Linked DNA regions of Homo sapiens: region 1 is linked to region 2. The links come from fine-mapping of genetic effects on gene expression. Tissue or cell type: whole blood. Region 2 holds a variant in brackets; the other region holds the start of a gene. All regions are shown on one strand. Distances are between the middles of the regions.

The links. PIP is the estimated chance that this variant, and not a neighbour inherited with it, causes the effect.
Region 1: it holds the start of USP45, and the variant in region 2 is fine-mapped to the expression of USP45 in whole blood (TOPMed, PIP above 0.99).

The regions. Positions count from the first base shown.
Region 1 is chr6:99,513,958-99,516,457 of GRCh38, forward strand. USP45 (ubiquitin specific peptidase 45) reads right to left here and starts at 1,466. Exons shown (of 18, transcript NM_001346022.3): 1 at 1,435-1,466. RefSeq lists enhancers at 474-1,381, 1,382-2,287 and silencers at 1,204-1,303, 1,354-1,723, 2,034-2,253.
Region 2 is chr6:99,481,248-99,484,013 of GRCh38, forward strand. USP45 (ubiquitin specific peptidase 45) reads right to left here. Exons shown (of 18, transcript NM_001346022.3): 8 at 1,506-1,636. Among named protein-coding and RNA genes, the nearest start is that of USP45, 33 kb to the right of the region's middle. The variant A/G (reference allele first, on the strand shown) is at 1,504.

The DNA of each region.
Region 1 (2,500 bases), 33 kb after region 2:
ATTATTCAGGTGATGGTTACACTAAAAGCCCAGTACCACTAGGAAATATATCCTCGTAAAAAAACGGCACTTATATCCCTTACCTTTATACAAATTTACAAAACTGTGGCTGAGGATCTCCGTGATCTCCCCCACATTTAGAGCTTTGATAGGATGCACGGGACTCAACATATAGTTGAATTCATGGCTGACATTTATTACACAATGCAGTATGGATATAAAGGCTCATCATAATAGAAAAAGACACAAGCGGAGTCTGGAGGAATCACGTGTAGGCTCCTTATGCGGTCTCCCTCCCAAGAGGGGTCAAACAAAACACATCCTTCCTCCATCAGTGAAAATGCAGCAGTTTCCGCGCAGGGAAGCCCATTAAAGACTTGGTGTCCCGGATTTTTACAGAAGCTGGTAATTTCGGCATAAAACATACTGTTCAGCACAAACCCAAAAATCTAAGTTCCCAGATGCCAAACAAGCACCAACATTGCAAGCAGTCCTTTCTAAGGATAGCAGTCTTAAGGCCTGCTATGTTAACTCTTTTTAGCACAAATATGTTCTGGCCATTTTTCTCATGCGGTTTTCCAAACAATAAACTTTACAGTTTTCAAGTCACCATCACTTAACACTTGTCTTTTCTCTAAAGTAGGATGTGCAACTAAGTTGTTTAGAAAGCTTTGTTTTTAAACAGGCTATGCAAAAAGCCCATATCCTTAAGAAAAAAAAATCCTTTTTTCCTACTCTTGGGCAATTATTTATGGGGGTTGGAAAGAGAAGAAAAGGTCACTATCTCCTTTTATATACCAAGCTCAAAAAGATGAGCAGCACTTATGGTTTTGCTGTGTATCACGCTCAGTTCTAAGCACTTCACAAATATTAACCCACGCAACCCTCACAACCACCTTAGGAGATAAGTTGCTATTATTTTCCGCATTTTACACTTGAAACTGAGAAAGAGAAGTGAAGTGACTTGCAGAGGTCCCAAAGCCAGTAAGCGGTGGATGGAGATGCGGACCCAAGCAGTCCGGCCCCGGAGCTCCTAATACACGACGCTTCCAGAAAAGTCATTAGACAGGCTTCCTCCGGTCACCAACACACACACACCCCGAGGATGTGAAGAGAAATGCGCCGCGATGAGGCGGACGGAAAGGTGTGGGGCCGCCGCGCGCCCAGGTCACCAGGGGACTCGGGCCCCTCCCAGGCCAGCCCCGACGCCCAGGGCTTCTCCCGCAGCCGCATGGACCCGGAGCCGGCAGAGCGGCGCTCACACGGCCCTCGGTGACCGCCCGGCGCCCCCAGGGATCAGGAAGCCGAGTGGGGTGGGGAGCCTCTCTTCCAGCCTCGCCCACCCACAAGGGGGTCAAGGTCGCCGAAGCGAAGACCGAGAAACTGCGGCGACCATACCGCCGCTGCGACCAAAGCGCCGCGTTCTCAACTCACCCCGCCGGGCCGGGCCGCAGCGTCTACAACCTGGGGAGACTGCGCCTGCGCGCTCGTCCCGCTCCCGGCAGAGGTGGGGCCTCGTTCGCCCGCCCCCAGCCAGGACCGGGAGGGTTCCAGGCGGCGCGCCCGGGGCCCGGGAGCGCGGGGAGGGGTGAAAGGGCGGGGCCGGCTTGCGTGGCGCCTGCGTTCTGCGTGTCCGCAGAGCCCGGAGAGTCCCTGATAATCTAAGACTCATAGCCACCGACTAGCAATTTGTTAGGATCCTGGGCCAGCGTGCGCACCTCGGATGTTGCAGGAGTCCGGCTTAAGTCCCACTTGTTGCTGGGCACCTTCTGAAACAGCCTCCGATTTCCCTCCGTTACCCTCCTCTGAACTCTTTTTTTTTTTTTTTTTTTTTTGAGACGGAGTCTCGCTCTGTCGCCCAGGCTGCAGTGCAATGGCAAGATCTCGGCTCACTGCAACCTCCGCCTACCGGGTTCACGCCATTCTACTGCCTTAGCCTCCCGAGTAGCTGGGACTACAGGCGCCCGCCATCACGCCCGGCTAATTTTTTGTATTTTGTTTAGTAGAGACGGGGTTTCACCGTGTTAGCCAGGATGGTCTCGATCTCCTGACCTTGTGATCCGCCCGCCCCGGCCTCCCAAAGTGCTGGGATCACAGGCTTGAGCCACCGCGCCCGGCTCCGCCCCCACACCCCCGCCGCCCCCTGAACTCTTAAAGTCACATCTAACATTCGTCATATATTATTGTGGTTTTTCCCCCATTGCTGTTGTCTTACCTATCCTTCTCTCTTCCTAGCTAGATAGTACATTTCTTGAAATACACCTATACCTCCTCAAAGCCCGGTTATCTGTTGAAGTGGCCAGCACATTGCATGTTTAGTAAAAGTAGTTGGTTTGAAAATATTTTGTTTCAATCATGGATATTGCAAATGCCAACACTGGTTATGGATAGGTTCTAAAAGTCTCCTGATCTTTCACAACTCTTCAGCCAAGGGACAAATGTGGCTTTAAGGATAAGAGCATTGGCGTAGAAATCAGAAGATACGAGAGTTAAAATTGCA
Region 2 (2,766 bases):
ATATATCAAGCAAGTTGCAAAAAATTTGCATATGTCTGTGTATGTATGATCACTTTTGGAAAGAATCAGATAATAGTTACTTCTGAGGAGTAAAGATAGAGAGGAGTTTGAATTTTTATCTATGAGTGCCCATTATTTTAATAGTAATTTTTAAAATGTTAATAAACCTTTATAACCAGGAAGAAAACTATACAAAACAAGTTATTTCTGGCAAAGTCAGAAACAAATTTCTAAAGCATACAATGACCTAGTAACTTTTTTTGTTTTAATTTCAACTTTTATTTTAGATTCAAGGGGTACATGTGCAGGTTTGTTATCTGGGTATATTGTGTGATGCAAAGGTCCGGAGTACGAATGATCCCGTCACTCAGGTACTAAGCATAGTACCGAATAGTTAGTTTTTCAACCCTTCCTCCCTCAATCTCTCCCACCTCTAGTAATCCCCACTCTCTACTGTTGCCATCTTTATGTCCATGAGTACCCAATGTTTAGCTTCCACTTATGAGAACATGTGGTATCTGGTTTTCTGTTCCTGCATTAATTCACTTAGAATAATGGCCTCCAGCTGCATCCATGTTGTCGCAAAGAATATGATTTCATTCTTTATTATGGCTGTGCTAAAAACTTTTTAACTCTGTGAGACACTCATGCCTCTGAGAATTTTGCAGGTTTTTTTGGTCCTCAGGCTTTGAAGAAACATCATTTGCCAACCAAATGAAACATACACTAAGCCCTCTATTTTGGACTATATTTAAAATATCATGGCATTCATTACTAGTTTTAATTAAAATGAGATTTTAAAGTCTATAGATATACAAAAACACAAGCTCATATTCAAATAATTTTCCTTCTACATATTTTAGTAATTGTGGACTGGACTAGCTTGTGAGTTCCATGAGGACAGGGTGCATTTGTGACGCAATATATGTTGTGTACCCCTGAATTGTAGCAAGTACCTCATAAAAAGCAAGCTCTCAATTTTTTATATAAATGAATACATGAATGCATTAAAGTCAAGTCAGATCCTTTATGTGTTTATTTCCAGGCACATAAGGATTTGGTTTTTAAACATACTGTAATACCTTGAGAAATTCACTTAAACTCTATTTGCCTCACAGCTCATCTTTTAAAATAAGAAAGCTAGATTAGATGTTATCTTACGGTACTTTCTAGATTTTACAACTCTATGGTTTTCTCACTTTATGGTATTACAACATAGGCATCCAAGTCAGGACAGATCTCCATTTGATTCTCAGCTTTTCACTCAGACTAGGTGAGCCATTTAATTTCTGTGTCTCCATTTCCTTATATATGAGGATAAGCTGCTTCTTCTGAGGACTGAGATATAATTTTCATAAAGCATAGAGCTGTAACAAATTTTAGTTCTCTTCATAGTCAGGGCAATAAGAGCAAAGTTACAGTAAAAACGACTATTCATGTTAAATGATGAATACATTAGTATTTTGTAACTCATAATTATTTATATTAAATGTAGATGCACCC[A/G]CTTCTGACAAAGCTGATTAAAAAGAACTTTAGGAGAAAGTGGTCCTTTTTCAGTCTCCTTCATGCTGTGAAGAAACAGGAACAAGGCTGAGGTCAGTGGTCCAGGCCTTGAAAGTTCCACCACCAATGGGTCCTTTAAAAACATGATCAACTCTATGTCAGAAATGTACAATTTAAAAATAACATATTAAAAATCTGTGAGTTACACTCTGCTTAAATAACACCAACTAAATTGCCTCAATTGTATTAAGAAACTTTATTATTTCATAAATAAAATATATAAAAATGGAAAACAGAATACCTGCCTTGAAAAACACAGGTATTTTCATATCCTCTGCCCTTTGCTTAATAAAACTATTAGATCAAATGATATCACCAATCTTTAGTTGCTTGTCACTGTCCTTTAATGCACTCTCCTATAAATAAAATCACTAATCTACTTAATGTTTGTACCACTCCACGAATAATCATACATTATTTGCTAGTAAATAATGTATGATTATTTGTGTATAATGTAGGATTATACACCTTTCTTTTCCCCAAATATTTTACTAGTAAAGTAATAATGTGGAATCATGTAACAAAATCAGCATAACATCTCCCTCTTTTAAAGGGGAGAGACATAAAGCTTGACAAAAGCAGCTAACATTGGGTGAAGGATTAACCCATTTAATTCTAGAATTTTTTTCCCCTCGAAATCTGGTTTCTAAAGTACTATCCCCACCAATAACACTTTCTCCTAAAGGACAAGGAATAGAAAGCAGATCCCAAATATAAACTTGGGACATTAAAGAATGTTATCTTCCGGCCGGGCGCGGTGGCTCACGCCTGTAATCCCAGCACTTTGGGAGGCCGAGGCGGGTGGATCATGAGGTCAGGAGATCGAGACCATCCTGGCTAACAAGGTGAAACCCTGTCTCTACTAAAAATACAAAAAATTAGCCAGGCGCGGTGGCGGGCGCCTGTAGTCCCAGCTACTCGGGAGGCTGAGGCAGGAGAATGGCGTGAACCCGGGAAGTGGAGCTTGCAGTGAGCCGAGATTGCGCCACTGCAGTCCGCAGTCCGGCCTGGGCGACAGAGCGAGACTCCGTCTCAAAAAAAAAAAAAAAAAAAGAATGTTATCTTCCAAGATAACTATTGAATATATTGTCCTATTCCTATATTCATGAAATAACTGTTACATATGTATTTTATAACAACTATCCTTAAAAATCCACTATAATCACAGAAAGGACAGGCTATAATTTTCCATAGTTTTTTTTT